Regions from separate parts of the Homo sapiens genome. Here region 1 is linked to region 2. A link means that fine-mapping ties the variant in region 2 to the plasma level of a protein whose gene starts in the linked region. Region 2 holds a variant in brackets. A gene starts in the other region. All regions are shown on their forward strands.

Region 1 (5,393 bases), not on the chromosome of region 2:
TGACACAAACAAATGAAAAACATTCCATGCTCATGGATCAGAATAATAAATATCATTAAAATGGTCATATTGCCCAAAGCAATTTACAGATTTAATGCTATTCCTATCATACTACCAATGACATTCTTCACAGAACTAGAAGAAAACTATTTTAAAATTCATCTGGAACAGAAAAATTAGCCCAAATAGCCAAGGCAATCCTAAGCAAAAAGAACAACACTGGAGGCATCACATTGCCCAACTTCAAATTATACTACAGTACTACAATATCCAAAATAACAAGGTACTGGTAAAAAAAAAAAAAAAAGCAGACACATAGACCATTGGAACACAATGGTCTAATGCAGACACATAGACCACTGGACAGAAAGCCCAGAAATAGTGCTGCACAACTACACCCATCTGATCTTCAGCAAAGCTGACAAAAACAAGCCATGGGAAAAGGATTCCCTTTTTAATAAATGGTGCTGAGATAACTGGCTAGCCACATGCTGAAGATTGAAAGTGGACCCCTTCCTTATACCATATACAAAGCTCAACTCAAGATGGATAAAATACTTATGTCTAAAACCCCAAAATATAAAAAACCCTGGAAGATAACCTAGGAATTACCATCCTGGACACAGGAATGGGCAAATATTTCATGACAAAGATGCCAAAAGCAATTGCAACAAAAGTGAAACAAAACAAAACAAACAAACAAAATAATTAACTGTAAGAGCTTCTGCACAGCAAGAGAAACTATCAACAGAGTGAACAGATAATCTACAGAATGGGAGAAAATTTTTGCAGACTATGCATTTGACAAAGGTCTAATATCCAGCATCTGTAAGAAACTTAAACCAATCAACAAGCAAAAAATAAACAACCCCATTAAAAAGTGGACTAAGGACATGAACAGATACTTTTCGTGTTTTATTTATCAATCTTAATTTACTTCTTATCCATTTGGAGTGTCAAATAATGGCCAAAGAAATTGTAATTATAAATTAAAGAACAAAATTTAGCAAGTAAAAATAAACAAAAATAACACAAAAATGTATTATCCTTTTACTTTTGTCATTAAGCAACAAATATATTTCTGATAATTTGTCAAATATTTTCTCCTTGAATTAATAGTTTATCTTATTTAAAAGGGTATATTGTGTTTTTAAAATTTTATTTTAAATTTGGGAGTACATGTGCAAATTTGTTACATAGGTAAACTTGTGTAATGGGGGTTTGCTGTAAAGATTATTTCTTCACCCAGGTATTAACCCTAGTACCCATTAGTTATTTTTCCTGATCCTTTCCCTCTTCCCACCCTCTATCCTCCAGTAGGCACTAATCATTAGGGAAATGCAAATTAAAACCACAGTAAGATACCATCTCATACCAGTCGAATGGCTATTATTAAAAAGTCAAAAAATAACAGATGCTGATGAGGTAGTGGAGAAAAGGGTTCACTTATACACCTTTGATGGGAGTGTAAATTAGTTCAACCATTATGAAAGATAGCATGGTGATTCCTTAAAGACCTAAAACCAGAAATTTGACCCAGCAATCCCATTACTGGTATATACCCAAAGGAATATAAATCTATCATAAAGACACATGCATGCATCTGTTCATGGCAGCACTGTTGACAATAGCAAAGACATGCAATCAACCTAAATGCCCATCAATGGTAGACTGGATAAAGAAAATGTGATACACATATACAAAGGAATACTATGCAGCTATAAAAAAGAATGAGATGATGTCCATTGCAGGAACATAGATGAAGCTAGAGGCCGTTACCCTTAACAAACTAATGGAGGAACAGAAAACCAAATACCACATGTTCTCACTAATAATTGGGATCTAAATGATGAGAACACATGTACACATAGAGGAGAATGACAGACACCGGAGCCTACTTGAAGGTGGAGGGTGAGAGGAGGGGCAGGATCAGAAAAACATAACTATGTAGTACTAGTCTGAATACCTGGGTGATGAAATAATATGTACAACAAACCCCTGTGACATGATTTTACCTATATAACAAACCTACACATGTAGCCCTGAACCTAAAAGTTAAAAAAAATCAAATTATACTGTTAAATTATTAGCATGATTTATAAACAATATTGTTTTAGGATAAAGAATTTAATTGCTTGGCAATTGCAAATTATTAAATTAAATATCAATATGTTAGGGAGGCTAATTCAAATGATATAAATATTTAGGCTATAACAAAAGGCAGCTATATATTATTAACCTCACCTCAAAAAGGGGCATAATTTCCATTCCCTTGACTTTAAGGGTAAATTAAGAGAAATTTGTAAAGCACTCAAAAGAATATTCAATTCAATATGTGGTGGACAGTTGAGAAATTATGTGTTATCTATGTCATGGGAAAGCAACTTTTAAAAAGAAAACATTTCCTCTGAGGTTTTCACAAATAAGTGAAACTGTGAACCCTCATATGTACTGTGAAAGGACAATTTGAGGAGCATCTCTGATTAGCAGCAGATTTATTATTCTTTCCTCATTTCATGTTATACTTAATAAAACAAAACATACCTGTATACACACACATTCACTCACATTGAAGATGCAAGATGAAGAAAGATACATGACATTGAATGTACAGTCAAAGAAAAGGAGTTCTGCCCAAACATCTCAACTTACATTTAAAGGTATGGAATTTAATTTCATTTTTTCAATTGGTGTGAATTAACATGGTAGTTTCCCGTATCCTGTTCCATTGTGTTATTGGACTGTTTCAGTATTTGGGTGCTTTTCTTTCTCCGTCTCTGTATCTCTCTCACCTGTCCTCTCTTTCAATATTAATAATGATTTAAAAATAACAACCTCTCTTACCATTTAAGAAACACCAGTTTCCGGCACTATACAGAATGTTTTATCTATGTTCCTTCATTTAATCTTACAAATTTACTATGAGATAATCTCTCTCTCTCCCATTTATCAATGTGGAACTAACACTTACTTGTAATATTTTGTCTGATATAATTTCTTAAGGACATTCTCTGAGGAAATATGCATACTCAATTAAAATTAATAATTTCAAATTAGTGAATATTTGCTGCCATTCACCTCCTTATCATTCATAGAATATGGTGTTTTAATGCTATTTTTTTTTTTTGAGACGGAGTTTCACTGTTGTTGCCCAGGCTGGAGTGCAATGGCATGATCTCGGCTCACTGCAACCTCTGCCTCCCAGGTTCAAGCAATTCTCCTGCCTCAGCCTCCTGAGTAGCTGAGATTATAGGTGCCCGCCACCATGCCTGGCTAATTTTTTGCGTTTTTAGTAGAGATGGGGTTTTACCATGTTGGCCAGGCTGGTCTTGAACTCCTGACCTCAGGTGATCCACCCACCTGAGTCTTCCAAAGTGTTGGGATTATAGGCATGAGCCACCGCGCCCAGCCTTTAATACTAATTTTTAATTCAACTTCTCAAAAACTTTATGCTTTTCACCAAGTTGACTCAAAATAAAGTTTATACACCAGCAATCAACATTTTAATTTGCTACTTCAAGCATACCCTCCATACACAATGCAATTCCATCATGCCACCTTAATGTGATTTGGCAAAAGAGATAAGCAGAAATTAAAGACACAAATAATCACAGTTATAGAGACTGTCTGTTCTGTTCTGTTGCTTTCTAAATATTTCTCTTTTAATAACTTCACCCATGAAAATTTTACTTATCTCTTGAGTCCTTCCACAAGTATCATCCATCAGTGATTCATCTTAGAGTTACATACGTGCTATGTATAAGAAATTTATTGCCTCTTCCATGTGAATTTTTAGATTCCCATATTTTCAAGTCTTTACTTCCTACACTCAATTTTTATTTCATTTTTGGAAATTAGAGATATTAAACCTGAAAGACTACAACATGTAGTGACTTCTCTGCAGACTTTTTTCCACACTCTGTTCATAAATGTCTCTCTGAAGCAAAAATGTGCAGATTTTCGGCTCCCAGATATTTAAGTGACACATACTAATATTTATGTCTTGTACCTTTAGCTAATATTTATTAAAGCTTGAGGTAAGACGTATTTTATGTGAATTAGATTGACAATGTGAGCCTTGGGGTTATGATGTTCATTCATTTAACTTAATTTTGTGATGACATATTTGTAAATCTTTTCTCATATATTGAAAAACCTTTGTTGCCAGTGATAGTAAGAAATTACATAATTGCTCTATCCCACTATACATATGTAGTAGTTTCAGAATCACTATAGAAATAATATTATAATAATAGTTACTTAAAACAGATTAAAATGTTTTGCGGTTTTAAAAAATCCTTAAGATATATTCCATTGAGCATGCACAGTTAAATGTTTTAAAATCACTTTAAGTAATTCCTCTCTCTATAGTGAAGACACTAACAATACCTAGTTAGATTCCTTTTCTTCATTTTTTATGGATTTTTTTTCATTTTTGTTTAACTTACTTTATAGTAGCATAAAACATTTACATATTTTCAGTCAAACTTATATAATGAGGGGCCAAGTGTGGTGGCTCATGCCATTAATCCCAGCACTTTGGAAGGCCGAGGCAGGATGATCGCTTGAGGCCAGGAGTTCAAGACCTGCCTGGGCAACAAATCAAGACCCCCATCTCTACAAACAATAGAGATAAAAAAATTAATCAGTCATGGTGGCACATGCCTGTAGTCCTAGCTACACAGGGTGCTCAGGAGGGAGGATCTCTGAGCCCAGGAGCTCAAGGTTACAAAGAGCTCTAATGGTGCCACTGCACTCCAACCTGAGCAACAGAGCGAGACCCTGTCTCAAATAAATAAATAAGAATTTAAAAAGTTTAAAAAATTACTTTCAGAGAAATCCACCTTGCATAAATCCAGCACCCTTCATAAAATTTACCATTTTGTATTTCTATATTTCCAGTGTTTACTTAGCTATTCTCACTCTTTTGTTCTTTCAGATAACTTTATAAAAAATTATTCAGGCTCACTCACCACAAACAACAACAAATAAAACAACCCGATGTAGCTTTTACGTCTAAATTACTTCCTAGTCTGTCATTAAGCTTAGGGAGAATTTATATTTTTGACACATAGTTTTCTTATCCAAGCACATGATCAAATTAATGTTACTCAGTTTTCGGTTAGTTTTGTTTTGTTTTGTTTGTATTGGGTTGGGACACTTGTCGAGTTTCTGTCTAGTTTTCTTTTTGTTTGTTTTTTTTGGTTAACTATCCGTGAGTAATGAATTTCTTTCATCTATGTTTTCACAGTGGTTACTGGATTATACAGGGCACTGATTTTAGTATGTTATTTTTATAAATGCAGCTACTATTTTTTGTTTCTGGAATTAACGGTAGTTTTTCAATTGATTCTTTTATTTTACCAAATCTGCACTCACATTACCTTCAAATA
Region 2 (5,393 bases):
TGCTGGGATTACAGGCATGAGCTGCCATGCTCAGCCTGCTGATCTTACTGCTGGTATGGGTGCTTTTGTTGTTTTATCATCTGGAGGCACCAACCCTCCATACAAGCCATTGTTTTAATCAATCATGGCAAATGCTAAGACCCACATCAACCTGAGTCTGTATTTACTTAAAAGAAATACTCAAGACCCATATCCTAGATGACATTTTCCTGGATAGGCACTCACTGCTGGAGATTATGCTGCCTCAGATGACATCGATCCAGCTTACCGTCAGAGATGAATTTACCCCTGCACCAGACATGGCGTCACCCTAAACACAAAAACCTTCACCCCAGTGACACCCATGGACTGCCTCTTCTCAGGCACAAACTGCACACCGAACATTTGGCCTTTTTTCCTTTGATATCAGGGATTCTATTGTGTTTCTGAGTGTGCTGTCTGCTTAGCCTATCATCCTGGCATACTCCTTGCTCTCTGCCAAAACATACACCCCGCACTCCTATGCCTGAAGGAAAATTTAATAGTAGTTACCACTACCTACGTCATTCTAAGAATTAATGGAGGGCCAAGCACAGTGACTCATGCCTATAATTCCAGCACTTTGGGAGGCTGAGGCAGGACTGCTTAATCCCAGGAGTTCAAACCAGCCTGGGCAACATGGGGAGACCCCATCTCTACAAAACATATAAAAGTTAGCTGGGCATGGTGGTGTACACCTGTAGTCCCAGCTACTCAAGAGTCTGAGGCAGGAGAATCTCTTGATGTCGGGAGGTCAAGGCTGTAATGAGCTATGACCACACCACTGCACTCCAGCCTCGGTGACAAGGGCAAGACCCTGTGTCTAAAAAGATAACAAAAATTAATGGATAGTATTGCCTTTCTCTGAAGGCTGTTGCCTCCTGAGTCAATCCCTCAACCCACTGGGAAGAGGACCACTAACTCCCCAGTGCCTACCCCTACTACCCCCTCAAGCTTTCCCCCGTGACTTCCTGCCCTGTGTCTCTGACCATGACCACTCCTCCTTGGTTATACACACACGCTAGTCTACACATGCATTATTAATGTATTAGTTCCTATCCCCCAACAACCTGACTGCAGGACCTGTTTTATATAAAATATATATATATAAAATATATATATATTATATATATAAATATATATATAATATATATATATATGTATTTCAAACTTTTAACCCACTTTAAAACTCCACCAAGATAATAGTAAAAACCTCCAAAAATTTCAGATCTACTTTCTTGACTAATGACATGCAAATGAAGAACTTAGTTATGGACCAGCCTACAAGGGCTCTTTATACTTCCACATTGTTCTTCTATCTTACTCTTACAATAAAATATTTTCTAGGCTATTTAGGGCAACTGTACCCCATCCTTTAAATAAGTCCACTATTACCACCCCAGGTTTCTTACGATGATGCCAAATAGGCCCAGGGGCAATGGGTCTTACTGTGTTTTCCTAGGTTCTGTACTTGTCTATTTGGCATCCATTAATCACAGGGCCAAACTAATGGCCAACATTCTTTACATCCCCGCTGTGACCCAGAGCTCATACTCTAAGCTACTCACACATCGAGCCAATATTTTCCCTACCCTACATAAACCCAGGGCCATGTAACAGACAACTGGGGACCGTCCCTAGGCCCCAAAGCCCATCAGAATTATTCAAACTATTGAGTCCTAAGCTGTTCCCCCTGCCCAGCTGGACCTTTCCCACAGAAACCCTAATAATAAAGGTTCCGAATTAGATTTTCCCCTCACTTCTGCTCCTCTTTCCTTAACCAACTGGATGCTTTACCACATGACCCTGCATGACAGAGCAAGTCCCCTTCTCTTGGAACTATAAGTAATAAAGTCTTTTTTCAATGGCGCTAGTCCATCTGTGTTGACACTCAGTCACCTCCATAAATCAAAACTTCAAGAGTACATTTTCATATAATATTTTATCAGGCATCTGAAGGTTTCACCAAAGTTTATATTTTCCTACTGCAAAACTATGTTCCATGTAGATCTGGCCCATCTTGAGGCTATTGTTCCTGCGTTCATCCTCCCATGGTCACATTTCTTGGCCAACAGAACCATAGAAATTGGTCTGCCATGTGTTAACGTTTAGTCCAAATCATTTTTCCACTTTAGCTCTGCTTCAAATGGGGCTGGCCT[G/T]GTGATACTGGAGACAATAAATGCGCCTGTAAGTTCCAGATAACAGGCTCTTGTCATTTTCCCAATCTTTCCTCATTGCAATGTTCCACAGCTGTAGGTGTGCCAAGGCCTCTGGGTCCCAGTGTAGCACCTTGAATGCACAGTTCACACAGTGGTGGCTTCAGGGTGCCAGCCAGGAGGAGTTCTGGTGCACTCACTGTTTGATGATGGTGGTCTTCCCCATGCCCAGGTCACCCATCACCAGCAGCTGATACAGGCTGCCTGAGGTTCAGGGCTGGAAAGACTCCAAGAGTGTGAACATGCTCCCACTGTTTTAAGTTCTTTTTTTTTTTTTTAATTTTTATTATACTTTAAGCTCTGGGATACACGTGCAGAATGTGCAGGTTTGTTACATAGGTATACATGTGCCATGGTGGTTTGCTGCACCTATTGACCCATCCTCTGAGTTCCCTCCCCTCACTCTCCCCACCCCACAACAGGCCCTGGTGTGTGTTAATCCTTTCCCTGTGTCCATGTGTTCTCATTGTTCAGCTCCCACTTATGAGTGAGAACATGTAGTGTTTCATTTTCTGTTCCCATGTTAGTTTGCTGAGGATGATGGCTTCCAGCTTCATCCATGTCCCTGCAAAGGTCATGATCTCATTCCTTTTTATGGCTGCACAGTATTCCATGGTGTATATGTACCACATTTTCTTTATCCAGTCTATCACTGATGGGCATTTGGGTTGGTTCCATGCCTTTGCTATTGTAAATAGTGGGGCAATAAACATATGTGTGCATGTGTCTTTTTTTTTTTTTTTCTGAGACAGAGTTTTGCTCTTGTCACCCAGGCTGGAGTGCAATGGGGTGATCTTGGCTCACTGCAACCTCTGCCTCCCGGGTTCAAGCAATTTTCATGTCTCAGCCTCCCAAGTAGCTGGGATTACAGACGCCTACCACCACTCCCAGCTAATTCTTGTATTTTTAGTAGAAATGGGGTTTCACCATGTTGGCCAGGCTGGTCTCAAACTCCTGGCCTCAGGTGATCCACCCGCCTCAGCCTCCCAAAGTGCTGGGATTACAGGCATGAGCCACCGCGCCACGCCTGCATGTATCTTTATAGTAGAATGATTTACATTCCTTTGGGTATATACCCAGTAATGGGATTCCTGGGTCAAATGGTATTTCTGGTTCTAGATCCTTGAGGAATCGCCACACTGTCTTCCACAATGGTTGAACTAATTTACATTCCCACCAACAGTGTAAAAGCATTCCTATTTCTCCACAGCCTCGCCGTGCAGTGGAGACTTTTTAATAATCTTTCTTTTAATAAAAGATTATTTAAAAGTTTTAAATATTCTTTTAATAAAAGATTATTTAAAAGTTTTAAATAATCTTTTATCTTGACTTTTCAATAATCACCATTTGACTTGTGTGAGATGGTGTCTCATTGTGGTTTTGATTTGCATTTCTCTAATGATAAGTGATGTTGAGTTTTTTTTCATACGTTTGTTGGCTGTATAAATGTCTTCTTTTGAGAAATGTCTATTCATATCCTTTATCCACTTTTCAATGGGGTTGTTTTTTCCTTGTAAATTTGTTTAAGTTCCTTGTACATTCTGGGTATTAGACCTTTGTCAGATGGGTAGATTGCAAAAATTTTCTCCCATTCTGTAGGTTGTCCGTTCACTCTGATGGTGGTTTCTTTCCCTGTACAGAAGCTCTTTAGTTTAATTAGATCCCGTTTGTCAACTTTGGCTTTCGTTGCAATTGCTTTTGGTGTTTTTGTCATGAAGTCTTTGCCCATGCCTATGTCCTGAATGGTATTGCCTAGGTTTTCTTCTAGAGTTTTTATGGTTTTGAGTTTTGCATTTAAGTCTTTAATCTATCTTGAGTTAATTTTTGTATAAAGTGTAAGGAAGGGATCCAGTTTCAGTTTTCAGTTTGAGTCTTTAGTCCATCTTGGGTTAATTTTTGTATAAGGTGTAAGGAAGGGATCCAGTTTCAGTTTTCTGCATATGGCTAGCCAGTTCTCCCAGCACCATTTATTGAATAGAAGATCCTTTCCCCATTGCTTGTTTTTGTCAAGTTTGTAGAAGATCAGATGGTTATAGATGTGTGGTGTTATTTCTGAGGTCTCTGTTCTGTTCCATTGGTCTATATGTCTCTTTTTATGCCAGTACCATGCTGTTTTGGTTACTGTAGCCATGTAGTGTAGTTTGAAGTCAGGTAGCATAATGCCTCCAGCTTTGTTCTTTTTGTTTAGGATTATCTTAGCTATACAAGGTCTTCTTTGATTCCATATGAAATTTAATTTCATTTAATTCTGATTTGATTCCATATGAAATTCTGTGAAGAATGTCAATGGTAGTTTGATGGGAATAACATTGAATCTATAAATTACTTTGGGCAATATGGCCATTTTCATGATATTGATTCTTCCTGTTTATGAGGATGGAATGTTTTTCCATTTGTTTGTGTCTTCTCTTGTTTCCTTGAGCAGTGGTTTGTAGTTCTCCTTGAAGAGGTCCTTCACATCCCTTGTTAGCTGTATTTCTAGGTATTTTATTCTCTTTTTAGCGATTGTGAATGTGAGTTCACTCATGATTTGGCTCTCTGCTTGTCTATTGTTGGTGTAATGGAATGCTTGTGACTTTTGCACATTGATTTTGTATCCTGAGACTTTGCTGAAGTTGCTTATCAGCTTAAGGAATTTGGAGGCTGAGATGATGGGATTTTCTAGATATAAAATCATCTCATCTACAAATAAAGACAATTTGACTTCCTCTCTTCCTATTCGAATACCTTTATTTCTTTCTCTTGCCTGATTGCCCTGGCCGGAACTTCCAATACTATGTTGAATAGGAGTGGTGAGAGAGGGCATTCTTGTCTTGTGCCAATTTTCAAAGGGAATGCTTCCAGGTTTTGCCCATTCAGTATGATATTGGCTGTGGGTTTGTCATGAATAGCTCTTATTGTTTTGAGATATGTTTCATCAATACCCAGTTTATTGAGAGTTTTTAACATAAAGGGATGTTGAATTTTGTCAGAGTCTTTTTCTGCATCTATTGAGATAATCATATGGTTTTTGTCATTGTTTCTGTTTATGTGATGAATTACATTTATTGATTTGTGTTTGTTGAATCAGCCTTGCATCCCAGGGATGAGGCCCACTTGATCGTGGTGGATAAGCTTTTCTGACATGCCACTGGATTCGGTTTGCCAGTATTTTATTGA

Direction of the effects. Positions count from the first base shown, and alleles are read on the strand shown. Strength reflects both the effect of a copy and how common the allele is.
As copies of T replace G in region 2, the plasma level of the protein whose gene starts at base 2,512 in region 1 goes down (moderate association).

Evidence for each region. PIP is the chance, under the fine-mapping model, that this variant and not a neighbour inherited with it causes the effect. Protein levels are from antibody-based Olink assays in UK Biobank. Linkage for the fine-mapping came from a reference panel and not from the study's own genotypes, which makes the PIPs less certain.
Region 1: it holds the start of KLRF1, and the variant in region 2 is fine-mapped to the plasma level of the KLRF1 protein (UK Biobank, PIP 0.98).

Annotation. Positions count from the first base shown.
Region 1 is chr12:9,824,970-9,830,362 of GRCh38, forward strand. KLRF1 (killer cell lectin like receptor F1) reads left to right here and starts at 2,512. Exons shown (of 6, transcript NM_016523.3): 1 at 2,512-2,660. The coding sequence starts at 2,576.
Region 2 is chr17:35,468,175-35,473,567 of GRCh38, forward strand. SLFN12L (schlafen family member 12 like) reads right to left here. Exons shown (of 5, transcript NM_001363830.2): 5 at 1-5,393. Among named protein-coding and RNA genes, the nearest start is that of SLFN13, 22 kb to the left of the region's middle. The variant G/T (reference allele first, on the strand shown) is at 2,178.